3 linked regions of the Homo sapiens genome follow. The protein of the gene in region 1 interacts with the protein of each later gene in a pairwise test. Each region holds a gene or a part of one and is shown in the gene's direction. Other genes may lie near its edges.

Evidence for each region.
Region 2: the proteins of MX1 (region 1) and TRPC6 interact in binary tests that used the Homo sapiens proteins (3 or more experiments, as listed by UniProt).
Region 3: the proteins of MX1 (region 1) and CAB39L interact in binary tests that used the Homo sapiens proteins (3 or more experiments, as listed by UniProt).

The regions. Positions count from the first base shown.
Region 1 is NC_000021.9:41,422,267-41,429,264, forward strand, and holds the start of MX1 (interferon-induced GTP-binding protein Mx1), read left to right. Parts: upstream 1-3,972; 5' UTR 3,973-3,997; exon of another isoform or gene 3,998-4,280; intron 4,281-4,939; 5' UTR 4,940-5,038; intron 5,039-5,488; 5' UTR 5,489-5,600; intron 5,601-6,998.
Region 2 is NC_000011.10:101,451,040-101,455,020, reverse strand, and holds the end of TRPC6 (short transient receptor potential channel 6), read left to right. Parts: coding exon 1-3; intron 4-1,295; coding exon 1,296-1,371; intron 1,372-1,914; coding exon 1,915-2,066; 3' UTR 2,067-3,457; downstream 3,458-3,981. UniProt on the Homo sapiens protein: Forms a receptor-activated non-selective calcium permeant cation channel. Probably is operated by a phosphatidylinositol second messenger system activated by receptor tyrosine kinases or G-protein coupled receptors.
Region 3 is NC_000013.11:49,350,041-49,357,077, reverse strand, and holds part of CAB39L (calcium-binding protein 39-like), read left to right. Parts: intron 1-6,165; coding exon 6,166-6,334; intron 6,335-7,037. UniProt on the Homo sapiens protein: Component of a complex that binds and activates STK11/LKB1. In the complex, required to stabilize the interaction between CAB39/MO25 (CAB39/MO25alpha or CAB39L/MO25beta) and STK11/LKB1.

The DNA.
Region 1 (6,998 bases):
CGCATGACAGTTTACAAATGCCATGGCAATGTCAGGAAGTTACCCTACATGTATGTCTAAAACGGGGAGGCATGAATAATCCACCCCGTGTTTAGCATATCATCAAGAATAACCACAAAAATGGGCAACCAGCAGCCCTCAGGGTTGCTCTGTGGAGTAGCCATTCTCTTACTCCTTCACTTCAGGCAGGGGAGATGAATTTCCCTTTGAGCCTGTGGACAGAGGGCAGCCTGGCAGAGGGACAGGCATCAACAAAGCCTCTGAGTGTGACCTGGGTCCTGAGTTCAGGGATGGCAATGGGGTAACTGAGACTGGATCAGAAGTTGCCTGGAAGAAGAGAGGGCCATTATCAGAGTATAAGAGTGTGAAACTTATCTGGTAGGAAAAAAAAAAGAGTAACTGCTGTTCGTTTAATAGAGCACACATCCTCTGCAATTCAGGTGGGAGGTTGTGAGCTTCTTAAGTACAGAAGCTGCCTCTTGATTTCAGCATAGCGAGGAGGTGCTGAAGAGCGCAGGTTTGGAGAATGATCACCTGGATTGGAACCATAGCTCTACCAATATGGAACCCAGCTCCTTAGGCCTCGGTCTTCTCATGGAGAACATGGTGTGATAATCCTACTCCTCTGGGAGGGTGGCTGTTAAGGTGAGTGATTGCACACGAGTCCCTCTAGCTGATGTTACCGAGCGGTCCTTGTTTTTAGAGCTCCCAAGAGGGTGGCGGGCCACTTCCAAGATGGCGGCAAGCCTCTTGTTCTCTGACCTGGGGTTCTTGGCCTCACAGATTCCAAGGAATGGAATCTTGGGGCATGTGGTGAGTGTTCTCATTAGGACGAACCCAGGCACTTAGACATGCGGGAACAATGGCGAGCCTTTAGCCCGAATGGGAGCGGCAATGGGTGCCTCGCTGGATCAGGAGCACAGCGGACACACTGCCGGATCCAGAGGGGTGGACATCAGTGGTGGGTCTGTGATGGCGGCAAACAACAGCAGACAGCAAATGGCAGTGGTGGATGGCAAGCGAAAGCTCAGCTCCAGCCATAACAAACACGGACCAGAAGAGTGTGCAGTTGCAAGATTTAACAGAGTGAAAACAGACGTCCCATACAAAGGGAGGGAACCCAAAGGGGGTTGCCATTGCTGGGTCGAATGCCTGGGTTTCTGTCTCAATCACTGTCCCTCCCCCTGTGCTCTCAGGCAATAGATGATTGGCTATTTCTTTACTTCCTGTTTTTGCCTAATTAGTATTTTAGTGAGCTCTCTTTACTACCTGATTGGTCGGGTGTGAGCTAAGTTGCAAGCCCTGTGTTTAAAGGTGGATGTGGTCACCTTCCCAGCTAGGCTTAGGGATTCTTAGTCGGCCTGGGACATCCAGCTCGTCCCGTCTCTCACTGACACCTAACACATCCTACATGCTCAGTAGACAGGAGCTATTATTGTATGACTGACTGCTGAATTACACCCCAAAACAACCACCTATACTCCCCAAGGCCCTGCCATATCATATGCATATTAGAGGCAATGAAGCACCAAAATCTAAGGCCAGGGAAGGACTGCGGTGGACAAGGGAAGTGCCTAGGGCGTTAAAACTTAAGGAGGCATTGCACCAACTGGGAGTGAGCTGTGTGTGCTGTGTTTCCTGGGCAGGGCGCCTCACTGCCCTTCCGAGTCCTGCCCTGGCTGAGGTTGTGCCTCTATCTGGTTATCAGTTGCCTGCAGCTCTTTCTGATTTTGTTCGTGAACAAGGGCCCTTAGGGAAGCCTCCCGCTGTTGGAAACAGCAGCAGCATCACCCAGAGTGAAGTCTCTGTTCACATGAGTGCCAGCTCTGCTCACACCTACCCTGCGTTCCCAAGGCACTGTTCCTGCTTCAGAAAGCATCAGCCCAGCCTGCTCACAGTCCCCCAGGATGTGCTGTTGCCTGGGTTCTTGACTAGGAAGTAAAAGGCCCAGAGGGGTTGAGTGTGTGTGTGTGTGTGTGTGTGTGTGTGTGTGTGTTAAAGTGAGGTCATTGCTAATTCCTGGGAGAACTTGTGTTCCCCTTGGATGAACCCCTTGGATGAAGAACCCCTTGGATGGGGTTGCCCAGCCCTAGGAGTGGATCCTGCAAAGCAAAATAGATTTCAGCACAGGGAGCTGGCTGGGGGGCTCCTCCCCCTCTTGTAGGTGCAGCAGTATTGAATTTGATTCCATCCAGGTTTCCCCTGACCCCAGGACCTAAAGCTGGGGCAGGTTCTGGGCCTTGAGGTTGGTTGGGGGTGACCCTTCCTAATCATGGAAGTCTTTAGCGGGGGCTTGTAAGGGACTGTGAGCTGAGCTAAGGAGAATGGAGGTGGGGTGCCAACCGCTCCCAAAGGGAAATGCCATCTCCCACTCACAGCCAGTTAGCCGAGAATGGGAGCTCCCAAAGGGAGGACCACCCATGGGTCTGCTTGACTCAGCCCTCCCCAACCCCTTTCACCTTTGCAGTAAAACTCTAGCCAAGGAAGACAAAGAGACCTTTGGAGACCAAAACAGAACTTTTAATTCGGGCCAACAGCAGGCTCATGCCCAAAATGGCTGCCAACCCCAACAAAGAAAGCAGCTAGCTTATATGTCGTTTGAGATGGGAAAAACAAGGTAGGATACAGGTTTCAGACAAAGACAGTAAATTACTTAACCCGTGACAATTCTGAGGAAACTGGCAATTCAGTTATATTGACTAGTCATCCTCCAAGCTGGACTAGGGTTGGAGGCTGGGGTCCCGAGGCAGGTGATAAGCTTTTGAGATAAGCTTGCATCTGCAACTTGTTACAATGCTGGGAGGGGCTGCTTAAAATTTTAGCCTATGTGTTACTTCTAAATAGCTTATACTAAATGTTAACTGTTTTCATGTGCGTCCATGTGAAGAGACCACCAAACAGGCTTTGTGTGAGCAACATGGCTGTGTATTTCACCTGGGTGCAGGCGGGCTGAGTCCGAAAAGAGAGTCAGCGAAGGGAGATAGGGGTGGGGCCGTTTTATAGGATTTGGGAAGGTAATGGAAAATTACAGTCAAAGGGGGTTGTTCTCTGGTGGGCAGGGGTGAATCTCACAAAGTACATTCTCAAGGGTGGGGAGAATTACAAATAACCTTCTTAAGGGTGGGGAAGATTACAAAGTACATTGATCAGTTAGGGTGGGGCAGGAACAAATCACAATGGTGGAATGTCATCAGTTAAGGCTGTTTTTACTTCTTTTGTGGATCTTCAGTTACTTTAGGCCATCTGGATGTATACCTGCAAGTCACAGGGGATGCGATGGCCTGGCCTGGGATGCGATGGCCTGGCCTGACAACTATTACCTATGTTATGTTTATTATTTTAAGCTTTATTATTACTATTTTATTTATTTTATTTTATTTTCCTTCCACACACCCGTTTCCACCCTGGAGAGGCCAGATGAGCCAGACTCCAGGGAGGCCTAGAAGTGGGCAAGGGGAAACGGGAAAGGAGGAAGATGGTATGGGTGTGCCTGGTTAGGGGTGGGAGTGCTGGACGGAGTTCGGGACAAGAGGGGCTCTGCAGCCATTGGCACACAATGCCTGGGAGTCCCTGCTGGTGCTGGGATCATCCCAGTGAGCCCTGGGAGGGAACTGAAGACCCCCAATTACCAATGCATCTGTTTTCAAAACCGACGGGGGGAAGGACATGCCTAGGTTCAAGGATACGTGCAGGCTTGGATGACTCCGGGCCATTAGGGAGCCTCCGGAGCACCTTGATCCTCAGACGGGCCTGATGAAACGAGCATCTGATTCAGCAGGCCTGGGTTCGGGCCCGAGAACCTGCGTCTCCCGCGAGTTCCCGCGAGGCAAGTGCTGCAGGTGCGGGGCCAGGAGCTAGGTTTCGTTTCTGCGCCCGGAGCCGCCCTCAGCACAGGGTCTGTGAGTTTCATTTCTTCGCGGCGCGGGGCGGGGCTGGGCGCGGGGTGAAAGAGGCGAAGCGAGAGCGGAGGCCGCACTCCAGCACTGCGCAGGGACCGGTGAGTGTCGCTTCTGGGGGCAGCGCCCAGTAACCGCGCTAGGAGCGCGGAGAAGGGCATTGGGAGAGCGGCGTTCGTGGCGGAGACTAGCGCTCCGGAGCACGGGCACGACGGGGGCACCTTCTCGGCTGCTAGTAACTAACAATAATAATAATCATAATCATAGCAAGGGCGCTGATGGGCGGGCTCGGAGCACGCCTGATTCTGGTTCCCACCAGGCTGCCCAGGCTCCTGATGACGCATCAGAAACATCCCCCTAACCCGCGGCCTTCCTGCAGGAGAGGTTGGGAAGGGGTGGGGGACGGGGCTCGGGGGAGGTCTCCGAGGGACTCTAGTAAGCGGGGAAGGGCGCCGGGAAAGTTTCAGATCCACGGCTGCGCGGGCCACGAGCCCACCCGAACGCCGACCACTGCTTTCCGTCGACTTCTATTTCCTGGGAACGCGCGAAAGCAAACCCAAGTCAGACTGCGGAGGTCGCTGGGGAGGGAAGGTTCAAGGAGTTCTCGCCGATCCTGCTGAATAAAGGGGGTTCCGAGCTGGGCCGAGATGGGGCATGCGCGGGAAGACCCCTGCCCGCTGTTCCCCCCCACCGCCCCAGTGGATGCCATGCCTGGGGCCTCCCCGGCGCGTGGGGCTGACGCACCCTCGGGGTCCATCGTAGTTGGCCGGGATCGTGGAGTGGGTGCGGTGGACGAAGGGAGGCAGGACAGTCCCGGGGGTGGCAGAAGGAGCCCGGGCACAGCTGAGACCTGCGCTCCCATCCCACCAACACTCACAGCAGGTGCTGCCGAGCTGGGCAATTGGGATGGCCCAAGTTATTTGGTTAAATTTTAAATCACGTTTGTTACTGGGAAGTAGAGTCCAGTGATGCTAACCGCGCCTCTACCTCCACCACCGGTGTCAGTCCCAAAGGGCTCCTAAAATGGCTGTGTCATCTTTCAGCCTTGGACCGCAGTTGCCGGCCAGGAATCCCAGTGTCACGGTGGACACGCCTCCCTCGCGCCCTTGCCGCCCACCTGCTCACCCAGCTCAGGGGCTTTGGTAGGTAGCAGTGCATTTGGTCTAAAGGGCAAGATGTTCTCTCTTTTATTCATAACAAATTTAAATACCAGCAGGGTTTGGGGGGAAAAACGCTTTCAGAAGAAAAGGTGAATGTCAGTCCTGCAAGAGTTAGTTTTAAAACTAGACTGAATTGGCACATGTATACCTATGTAACAAACCTGCACGTTCTGCACATGTACCCCAGAACTTAAAAGCTTATAAAAAAAGAAAAAACTAGACTGGATTATGTTGGGAAAGTGTAGCCTCTTCCATCTTAGGCATTTCCTAGAACGTAGGCAGTAGGTGGTCCTTATTAGGAGTTTTGGGAGAGGAAGGGGGCTGAATCCTACCTCCCATCCCTGCTCCTCTATGGGGTCTGAGCTGAGGAAGCTTCACCACAAGGAGAGAACCCCCTGACAACCCTGGATGCCACCTTTACCCTCACTGCAGGAATTCTGTGGCCACACTGCGAGGAGATCGGTTCTGGGTCGGAGGCTACAGGAAGACTCCCACTCCCTGAAATCTGGAGTGAAGAACGCCGCCATCCAGCCACCATTCCAAGGTAAGGCAGAAATGAAGTGGGCCGTTGGGTTCTTTCTTTTCTTTCTTTCTTTTTTTTGAGACAAGGTCTCACTCTGTCGCCCAGGCTGGAGTGCAGTGGCGCCATCTCAGCTCACTGCAACCCCCGCCTCCCAGGTTCAAGCGATTCTGGTGCCTCAGTCTCCTGAGTAGCTGGGATTACAGGCACACATCACCACACCTGGCTAATTTGTATGTGTTTAGTAGAGACAGCATTTCACCATATTGGCCAGGCTGGTTTCAAACTCCTGGCCTCAAATGATCCACCCGCCTTGGCTTCCCAAAGTACTGGGATTACAGGCACGAGCCACTGCACCCAGTCAGGTTCATTTTAGTTGTTATGTTAACCAGGTTTCCTGCACCTGTGCGCTAACTTTCACTTTCCCAAAAGGTTTCAGGGTGACCCAGCAGGCAATGAGTGATTCTCAAATTCAGGATTTATTGTGAGAGATTCACACACACAATTGAGCAGACATTCACAGTACAATGATTAAAGGGAGTGATAGGGTAAGGACCCACAGTGGAGGCTCTGGAGGCCAGCCCACTGACAGCCACTCCAGGGAGTCCAGAAGTCCCGCTCTAGTGCTGGGTGGTGGAGGGAAATCTGTTCCTCCAGGGACCTCGTCCTCGGCTGCCCAGCTGCCAAAGTCAGGAATAAGCTTTCAGAAATCTCACTGCCAAGATTCCGAAAACGCTTCAGACATTGCTAGTCCCTTGTCGCTTTTGCGATCCTCCACAGGTGTGCGTGCCACTGGGTCCTTATTCACTGGGGTCTCTGGTGGCATTGGGCCACAGCAAGTGTTCCCTCATCCCCTTAGTCTACCACACACATGCTTACCACTTTGAAGAAAAACCCCTTTACTATGAGCGAAAGTGAGAAACACGTATGTTTATTGTTTCTAAAGAAAGAAACTTAATATGGGCTTAATGCTACCTAGTGAGTGCCTCCATTTTGAGACATTAGGGTCACAAGTCATTATTATATATCATGGGCACAAACCTGCCCTGGGCAGGGACGGAAGGAAGCCCCTGCACAGGGGCAGTTGCTCAGGATGTGAGAAGAGCCTGGTGCATAACCCCATCCATGCCCACCTAACATCTCAGGCTCTGACCAGTGGGGCTGTGCAGTAGCGAGTGGATGGAGGGCTGGAACCCTGCAGCCTCCTCTCCAAACACAGGGTGCAGCCAAGACATTTTAGGAGCAATTTGGGATGGAGAGCTAGGAGTCGCCACCTCTTGGCTCTTCCAAGGCCGGAACTGGTGCCTGCACTCAGTTCAGTTTGAAGACTGCAGCTGGATGCCAAGTTCCATGGAGGAGTAAGAAACCGGTTTGAACTCCCGAGATTGCCCTGCCCCTGAAATCCAAACTGATGTTCCGAAT
Region 2 (3,981 bases), on another chromosome or scaffold:
CAGGTAAGCATGGATTTTTAAAGGAATAAAACTAGTTACTTGTAATATTTAGGTTCTTGAACTATGTGATTCTTTAAAGTATCAGGATATTTTTCTCAATATCAAATAATGCATTAATTCAATAAATATTTATTAATTACCATGTACCAGGCATTTTGTAAGTGACAGAGATATATAAGTTAAAAAAAATAAAGTATTGGAATCACAGATCTGAAAGTCTCCATTAAAAAAGAGAGTGTTCATTGAAAAGGCAAACCTTACAAAAAACATAAAGACGACAGTAAAATTCATGTCAGATTCCACCAGTGAGAAACAAAGTCTGCTTGCTTTTGGTGAAAATTCTGCCAGATGATTATATGCCTATATGTGCATAATTTTACATATATTTTAATATTATTATAAAATGCATATATAATACTATATAAATCAGCTAATACTTATATAATGAGTAATAGTTTTTAGCTTGTGATTTTCTCTCCACAAAATATATATTCCTATTAATTTCAGTGAATGTATCATATTCCTTCATACAAATATATAATTTACTAAAAATAATTCCTTACTGATGAACATTTAAAGTTTCATTTTTGTCTATTATATAACTAGTTCTATGAACATACTTGTTAATGTACTAAATCATATCTTTAGAATAGATTCTTGAAGGTAGAGTTTTACTATCTACCATTTAACCTTGGCTTAGGTGTAAAATTTTATTTAGTTCTATATCCATCAAGACTTTCTGAGCACCCACTAAGACTCCTTCTTTTTATGAAAAATATATAATAAAAGCAATGTTTGCATGATAGAAGCCCAGGTACTTGAAAAATATATTACATTGAAACTAGCATTCCTAAATTAATAGAAAGTTTAAAATAAAAATTGGTTCCATTTTTTGGTGGGTCAGACGTGGGGCTTAAATGAGCAGACATTAGCTTAATTTCCCATTTCCACGAGCAGTAGTGTACATCTTTTACCTACCCCACTGAAAGACTGTCTTACTCTAATACTTTTCAAATAAAATACAAGCAATGGACATAAAGGATTTCATACTTGCTCTAAACATTCTTTTCTAAGAACTCACTTTTGAGTCATTAGCCTAGGTGATGTGAAAACTGCTTTAAAAAGGAAAGCAAAATGTAGAGATCGCCTGCATCCTGGCTGAATCATCTTAGTCCTTGACAGCCATCACTTCCAAAGGGCTCACTACAGGGAGGAAGACTCTGAAACTTGTTCCAAATGAGAGATTTGTCATGAACCTGAAACTGACATAGATTTCTCCTTTCTCTGTTTTCTAGAAAATAATGAAAAGGCTCATTAAAAGATATGTACTGCAGGCCCAGATAGATAAGGAGAGTGATGAAGTGAACGAAGGTGAGTTGAACGCAGAAGCAAATCAGCCCCTGAATGTGAGTCAGGACGGGGGCCTAGCGCAGAGTGCCTGGAGAGCTGCAGAGATGCGTACAGGGAGAGTGAACTTCAAGGGGAAAAGTAGAACAGGATCTCACCAACCGCCGTTCTGTTAAAGAGTGGGGAACAGGCTATGTCTCCACAGGCGGGGACAGGTGCCACTTGCTAGATAAAAAGCTCTCATTCTTATGGTGGACTTGGAGGGAGGAGGAAGTGGGTGGGAAAGGCAAGGAAGGGGCTGCTGCCTCAACCCCTGAATCATTCACCACCTTTTTGTTTTAACTTACTTTAGGAGGGCTTTTGTTATCATTCTGCTATAATCTCTTCATTCACAAAAACACTTAGCTAAGAAAACAAAAACCTGCTCAATTAGGAAGTTATTTCCTTTCAAAGGATTCAAAATAAAATTGTGTGTGAAATTAGAGCTGATTTCCTCCTGTCCCACAGTCACTAGTTTTTCCGCATTGCGTATTTATAGTTGACTTCTTATCACTCTTGCTTTCAAAGGGGAACTGAAGGAAATTAAGCAGGACATCTCAAGTCTCCGCTATGAACTCCTTGAAGAAAAATCTCAGAATACAGAAGACCTAGCAGAACTTATTAGAGAACTTGGAGAGAAATTATCCATGGAACCAAATCAAGAGGAAACCAATAGATAATGCGAAGACTTCCTTAGAAATTCATATTTATTTGTCCACTTGAAGCCATATTATTTTCTGATTTATTTTCTTAAGTGCCAATGGGCCCACCTTTTAAACAAGAAAACGTTAAATAACTTGGGCCATCCTATCATCTGGAGCCCTAGTATCTAATTTTTTTGGTGATTAAACTCCATTGTTCAGGGTAAAGGCTGTAGATAATGAGGAAAATTATGCCCAGTTGTTTGGTGCTTGTTTTATAAACTGCTTTCTTGGATATAACTAACTCTTGTGATGATGTCATTGCCATGTAGTGTCTGCCTGAAAATGGGTCCCAGCGGACAGGGGCTGACCCACGTTACTCCCCATGCGGTTTTTCCTCTGAAGTTTATTTCAGGTTCCTTCTTGCCTGCTCTGTGGATCCCCTGCTGGGGACTCCCAGCTCTGAAATTTGGGAAAAAGTAGCCCATGGGCCTTTAGAATGCTTTAATCCTTTCTTTAGAATGCTGTTTAAACACCATTTACCCTACTTATCCCTCAATGCACATGATTGATACCGTTCATACAAAATGGTCTTACATCTATGTAAAATTTTCTGATTCATCTATTTGAAAACATTACACTTAACAATGAAAAAAGTTTTTCCTCCACTGAACCCTGGAAACATGGTCCAGTTTTGTGTGTGTGCGTGTGTGTAAATGTGTACACACAGACATAAAGTACTTGCCCTAGTTTGTGGCTAATGTGGACACACAAAAGCTCTTTATGTTATAAATTTTTATTGTCACTAAAAAATTTTACTGTCTAAATAAGTACCTTTTATTGGAGAAAAATCAAAACCCCAAACAAACACTGTGGTTGTTTGGTTCCATTATAGCACAATTTTGTGCCATTTCTGGGAGCATTTACAGATGAATCCCCACACTTAGCCATTGAATGTAAAGGGGAAAAATAAGGTGAGAATTTGTAAATACTTATCTGTTATTTTCAATATGTTCTATCCTTCTACCCAAATATATAAAACAGGAATTTGCATTCATGTGCATTTACCAAGAGGTTGTTGTTGTTACTTACTGATCATGTGAAGTGGTGTCTTAAACAACTAAAAGCGATGAAGGTTCATATGTTTACTCAAAGACCATTGGCATTCAGAGGATGCTGGACATTAACTGGAACTGCTACTTCCAATTCAATAATGGGAGATTTCAAATGCAAATCTTTAACTTCATCTTAAAGATGAAATGGTTGCAGAAAATCTGTTTAGCTCCAACTTTGGCTTAATTTAAATCAAAGAACATTTATGTAACCAGATCAGAAAATACAGCTGAAAATTTATATTCAGTGATTTTGTATTTGTGGATACTACTTATGGAAAAGTTACTTGGTGATACATAAAGATCGATTTTCAAATATTTTGTGACAGTATTTGAATCAGCAGTTGTAAAAAATCAACCTCATACTGAATGCACTATCAGCAAATTAAAATAATCTAACATCCACAAAAAAGTGTGTGTTGTGCCATGCGAGAGATGGACCTTCATCCCAAGGATGCTCTATGACAGCACATGGTCTTGACTCCAGAAGACTCAAGAAAAGATATTCAGATTCCTCAGTGTCTTTTAAGTTGGATTGACTTGACAAGATATAAGTTTTGGGAAACTCAACAGGCATGACTGTGGGTTCCTCAGCAAAAGGCACTACCCTCCTGGTGGCTCTTATGGTTCAAACTAATGTCCTGAAGTCAGATTTTCATCAAAGTGCAACTGAATTGACATCTCTTCGAATTTCATCTTCCAACTTAGAATAATTGGCATTTCTTCTAAGTTGGAAGATGAAAAAGGAAATTAAACGCATTTTAAGAAAGCTTTTAAAATTCTGATAAGAGCTTCATTACAGGCACATCGCCAAAAGATGGTCATAAGCATGGGAAAAGTCT
Region 3 (7,037 bases), on another chromosome or scaffold:
CTGTTACCATTTTCTTTTTTTTTTTTTTTGAGATGGAGTCTCGCTCTGTCGCCCAGGCTGGAGTGCAGTGGCGTGATCTCGGCTCACTGCAACCTCTCCCTCCCAGGTTCAAGCGATTCTCCTGCCTCAGCCTCCTGAGTAGCTGGGACTACAGGCCCATGCCACCACGCCTCACTAATTTTTTCTATTTTTAGTAGAGACGAGGTTTCACCATGTTAGCCAGATGGTCTTGTGATCTGCCTGCCTCGGCCTCCCAAAATGCTGGAATTACAGGCATGAGCTACCGCACCCAGCCCCTGTTACCATTTTCTAATTTAGCACTGAATGCTAGAGATTTAGCCCTTCTTAAAAGTCAGGATTTTTACCGAATTATCCTTGTGAAGTCACTTTAAAACCTAGGGCATAACTTGATTGGTACATTTACACATCAAACAATAATATAAATGAGAGTATGATAGTAACATTCTGTATAGAACCTAAGTCTAACCATAAAGAATATAAGACAAAAAGCAATTGATACTTGTGTATCAAAGAGAATTATCTGGATATGTGGTATTAAACATGGTAAAATGTATTTGGAGCCCAAGTTCTATGAAAAGATTATAAATAAGGACTTACTCACTCTAAATGAATTTGTCTTCTGGCTCAGGCAAATGACATTCCAGGGTACTGAGAGAACTTGAGAATGAGGTCACTGAACAGCTCTCAGTGATCCATAAAGAACTGTGGCCAGTGGACTATGTTCCAGAAGGCTGATGTTAAAATCATAAATTTCTCCCAATTATCCTGTTTTTTTAAGTTTATTATAAAAAATTTTAAGCAGTTTCATTTTGGCAGTTATTTTGTAGATGGTGCTATGTAGTTCATATTTCATCACATTAGGAGATGTACTTTTAGTAATGCTAAGACTGAGCAATGGGTTCAGTTGGTGACAGTCTAATCCACTATAAAGTTTCCCATCAACCTTAAACTTAATTGTTTTACCATCCATTGATGAACATTGCCTGATTCCGTCATTTTGCTAGAGGTGACAAAAAGGTAATTTTGAATTCTGTCATTCCTTTTGTATTTTTTATTGGCTAAAGTAGTTTTATAGAGAATACTGTCATTCACCCACCACAGCTTCAGGTGTTAGAATACTCTGAAGTATAATTCATACCAGAGAGGCAGAATAAATGCTCAATTCTTTTCTTTTAATTATCATTTTAGAGAAAAATAAGATATCCTAGGAACTTTCATCGGTGTCTAATGAGTTATTTCCCTCCCTCCCCCTGCCTTTATATATGTGTGTGTGTATAAATATATATATATATTTATATATGTACAGAGACACACACTCTTCTAGTATCTGATGAACTAATGGATTTAATGTTTTCTATATGTCTTATTTAGTTCTACACATGTTTTTTTAATGCTCAATTGGCCATCTGTGGCCCCTTCTAGGTGATATCTCTTAACATCACTAAAATAGTTTCTGAGAGCTTCTTTGCTTTCTGGTGTAACGAGATATGCCACCCAACTTGTACATTTGCTGACAAAGACCTGAAATTTCTACCAAGGATGTTGGTTCTTTTTAGAGAGAAATGGTTCTTAGAGACTACAATCTGGTTGCTAGGGGTGCTCATTGACATTGGATTGTTATTGCTTCTAGGCCTTTTTGGTGGACAGAACTAACTCATTATTTTATTTATTTATCGAGACAGGGTCTTGCTTTGTTGCCCATACTAGAAGGTAGTGCTGTGATCACAGCTCACTATAGTCTCAACCTCCTAGGCTCAAGTGATCCTCCTGACTCAGCCTCCCAAATAGCCGGGACTACAAGTGCATGCCACCACACTTAGCTAATTAATTTTTTTTTTTTTTTTGTAGAAACAGGGTCCCACTATGTTGCCCAGGCTGGTTTCAAACTCCTGGGCTCAAGCAATCCTCCTGCCTTGGCCTCCCAAAGTGCTGGGATTATATGCATGAGCCACTATGCCTGGCCTAACTCATTATTTTTAGTCAGCAAATGTTTCTAGATTAGAAACATACGTTCTTGACTATATTGAGGAGGCCAAGTGTTTGTTGAATGGCATTTTACAAAAGCTTTCCAGGTATTTCCTGGCCTTGTTTACTTCCAGCAATAATCACAAAAGTCATTTTCCCCCTTACATAATGTAATCTTTGTTCTTAAATTGAAATATTCTTGCACAAGATCATTCTTCTGACCATTTTCTGTGTAATGATTACTGTAGCTCACTGCCAGCTGAGACCATTGCTCTTACATTTTGGCTTTCATTAAATTTGAGAGAGACTTTTCATTATGCTGTCATTATTTGATGGGCATGCCTAGATAGTGCCTTCTCCACACTGACACAGTTCATTATAGTCCAGACTATATGATCTAAATTACAAATCAAGAGGGAAGATAAGATTCAGTTCTATAAAATAGTGATTCAGCATTCATCAGATTAACCTTTACTGGGGACCTGCCATGGGTTAGCCATTGTGGAAAATGCAGTAATTAGGCAGGATCCTTGCCATCAGGAAGCTTATCTATGAGTAGAATAGATTAGGTGGGATACATATTGATTCTTTAACAGACCTAAGGATATTAATGTTAGTGGGATTTGAAACTTAACCTAAGCTTATCTTTTGGAGCACTTCTTTAAATAGTAAGCAATAACCTATCAAAAGTCAATATACTAGAGGGTAGTCAGGTAGAAATGATCTATGTGAATTATAAATCACTTAAAGAGTACTGAGGAGAATTAGAATTCCCTATATATCTCTGTATATCCCTATGTATTTCTGAATTTAAGAAGTTGTAATCTCAGAATGACAGATGTCAAACTGCTGGGATGAAATGACAAGTGTGCTGACCCAGAGGAGTCTTGGTTTTTTAAAAACATTCTTTTGATTCTCAAGAATAAACTGTCAGTGCATCACAGATGGTTTCAATAAGCTTCACGAAATGAAAGGAAAAAGAGAACTAATTATACCCAAAAGTTAGAGTGGAAACTTTTTATAGATGGTCTTAGTTTGGAAATTGAATTAAGAAATGAGAAAATGTTGGCCAGAGATGATGCATATTTTGTATACGTCAGAGTTTGACTCTCATTAGAGTACTCTAGTATTAAGACATTTCTTCAGTTTGAGGTTCATTAAATTCATTATATGCATGCTTCGTGAAAAACATTATAATAGGCACTCTTCGGAGACTGGGGTAGGGACAGGAGAAAGTAGCAATAAATGACATAGACACCAAATGGAGATGGGGATAGGGGAGGAGAGGAGAAGGTAACAGGATAAGTAAAACATATCCCCAACAATTAAATTGATTGTAATGAAGAAAATAGACCTATAGCAATTTACTGCAGTATAACATAATACAGAATGAAAAAAGTGTTAAAGAGAAATTACAGACAAGCTGTTATTTGAGTGTGAAGGGCAGAAAGAATAATCCTGAATTGTAGTGATTAGGAAAGGCTTCAAGGAGGAGATGGCATTTGAACTAAGCCTTGAGAGATGAGAAGCATCTGAGTTGTGGGAATGTAAGAAGGGCATTCCAATTGAGGGAATGAGGGGCTCCAGGGAAATAACGAATGTGATGGGAGATGAAACTGAAAAGTTAAGGTTAGGGCCAAATTACAAAAATCCACATATATCTTGCTGATCAATAAGTCTGGATTTTAATTGTCCTTCCCTTAGATTCTTTCTCTAGGCCAACAGCCTTTATTTTATACTCTCTTGAGTACTCTATCAATAAATGACAGTGCTTTTCTCCTTTACATTTCAGAACATATACCCCTCTTTACAACATCTTTAATAAAACCCCACCTGACAACTGTTCCTTGTGAGCCAATAGGCTGAGTTTCAGGTTTTTCTAATAAGAGAAATTGCTAGCACTATAAATTGGCATTCCTTATATTCTACAAAGAATCATGACTATCTGAATGTATCAGCATTTAATGTTACTATGAGTTATTCAGGGAATACTCAATATTTGTGAATATCATTCTGCATAAACAGGACAAAAATGAATAAATACCACCCTGGTATCTTTGTTTGCTGTTTCTTCTACTAATATTTGTAAATTTGATATTGGAAAGTAGTCTATTTCCTCAATTGAATCTTTATTCTTGAATCTGTCTTTCATGAAAATTCTATAATCTTATAAAGAGTAGTACATTACTTATTGTTCAACAAATGTTGTTACTAGTAGTTGATGAGTAATAAAATATCTTAAAGTTTTATAGTATCATAAAAGTTCCATAAAAACTAGTATTCAGTTGAAATGGTCAATGATATCTCTTTAAAAATATGGTCAGATTTTATTTTATTTTATTTTTATTTTTGGAGACAGAGTCTCGCTTAACTTTCCAGGGTCAAGCAATCTCCCACCTCAGCCTCCTGAGTAGCTGGGACTACAGGCGTGTGCCACCATGTCCAGCTAATTTTTTTAGTTTTTGTAAAGTCAGGGTCTCAGCTAAATTTTTTATTTTTTTATTTTTTGTAAAGTCAGCCATGTTGCCCAGGCTGGTCTCGAACTCCTGAGCATAAGCAGTCCATCCACCTCAGCCTCCCAAAGTGCTGGGAGTACAGGAGTGAGCAGTCACGCCCCACCAGATTTTTTTTTTTGGAGGGGGCCCTATATTCTGCTCACTTCCCAGTGTATCACAACTATATCTTTCTTTGTTCTATTCTTCCTATATTTACCACACAATTGTCAACTGTATTATTTCAATACAGGGCTTGTTGTACTTGGGCTAAGCATTATTCATTTTCTTGAAATCTTATCACACACTGGAATATATCTTAAACTTACTTAGAGACTGAATTTGACTTTGAGAGATTGTTGTTGTATTAGAAATGGAACCAATCTGGTATGCCAGTCCTGAATTGTTTCCCACAGTAGACGTTTCGTTTGTCTAGCATATTTTTTGCTGTGAGCCATGATTCCACTTAGGATTTAAGTGAGTCAATCAGTCCACAGCTATGTATTAGCCACCTACTGCATGCAAATCATATATTTATATAGGTCTCTCCTATCTTTTTCCTAAAGTCCAGATAAGTGTATCATACTGCCAAGGAGACCTTTCTACTTAGATATCAGCCATCTCAAAACTAATGTGGTCAACCACAAACTCTTAATTTCTTTACTAACTTGTTCCTCTACTAGTTTATTCATCTTAATAAATAGCACCACCATCTACCCAGTGATTCAAGCCAAAAACATAGGAATCATTCGTGAATTCTCAGTTTCCAAATTTATTCCCTCACCCAACTCCAGCTACATCATCAGCAAGTCTTGTTGACTCTTCCTCCGAACAGTATCCACCACCTGCCCACAGTCCTCTGTTCTGCTCCTGCCACCCCAGGCCAAGCCCCCGTTCCCTCTCCTGGGTTCTGCTCCTGTTCTTATATGTCTCCTGCTGTTTTACAGACATTCTCAACAAGAAGCCAGAGTGATCTTTTTAAAGCATAAGTTAGTCTTGTCAATTTCTTGCTTTAAACTCTCCAAAGGCTTCCCATTACACTTAAAATAAAACCAACTGCTTACCTTGGCTGACAAAGCTGTATCTGATCTGGGATCTGGCCCCTGCCCTTCTCTCCACCCCTGCCTCATTTCACACCACTCACGGTTCTTCCTCTACAATCGAATCACACAGGCTTTATTCCTCCTTCTCTGTTTCGCCAAGCCTGTTCTTGCCATGGAGCCTTTGAACAGTTTTTTCCCTTTGCCTGGAACATTTTGCCTTTTCCTTGAGTCTAAAGTAAAGTAACTTAAGTAGTCACTCACACACACACACACACACACACACACACACACACAATTTAGTCACCTTTATAATGTGGCGTATTTTATTGTCAACAGTTTTTACAGCCCTTCTCAGTGTATGAAATTATCTTTTCATTGTTTACATTCTGCCTCATCCCCCCACCCCCAGCTGTCACCATGTTCATATTTGAGTATATCTAAGTGTTTCAGAATACACTCAAATTCCAGAATACGTCTGCAATAGTGCCAGGCACATAGTAGATCTTCAGTGGATATTGAATGAATCGTGACAAATGGTATGTATGCTTCCATTAATAGCAGTATTGAAATGGTTCTTTTGATGCCATTAATATTATTTTAATAGGATAACAGAGTTCTCTATTTCTCTCTTGTTTACGCTTTAGATATGAAGCCCCACAGATTGCCTTACGTTGTGGGATTATGCTGAGAGAATGTATTCGACATGAACCACTTGCCAAAATCATCCTCTTTTCTAATCAATTCAGAGATTTCTTTAAGTACGTGGAGTTGTCAACATTTGATATTGCTTCAGATGCCTTTGCTACTTTCAAGGTAATTTTTTTTTTCCAACTCAGCTAGGTCAATTTATAGTCACTTGGCCCCTGAAGAGGCAATTTAATTTTAAAAAGCAAGAAATTTTACTTCTTAGGCCTCAGTGTAGCCAACCATGTATGATGTGGATCATAAGAGGAATCTGTAAATAGAATGCAGTCTATGAGGCCAGTCTGTCCTATTGCAGGAAAACAACTCAAAATATTTGTCACAAGCTCAAATGGAGTGAATTCCAGTATATACAGTTACGTGGGAAAGGAATATGTAGTGCTCTGTGTGTGGCATGCTGTCATTTATGTTAAAAACAGATTAAAGGGCATAAGCTTCCACTTAAGGTACATATGCACTGAATACCTCTGCAAGGATGCATAGGAAACAGCAACAGTGATTAATTCTGGGGAAAGGAACTAGGTAGTGAAGGGAGATGGAGAATTACATCTTTGAATATGAAGGACATCATGTTATTTTATGAATGAAATTTTTAAATGTCCACATGGTGAAACAAAATAGTAAGAAATTATATTGTCGTTGTTTCATAATCATCTATAGTTTGATCATGTATTATCTACTTTGTCACTATGTAGGAAATCGTAGGATGCAATATATTCACATTGTTAGGCAACCAACTACCAGAACTTTTTTATTTTGAAAAATTCAAACTCTACCTCTATACTTATTAAATAATAACTCCCCATTTCCTCCT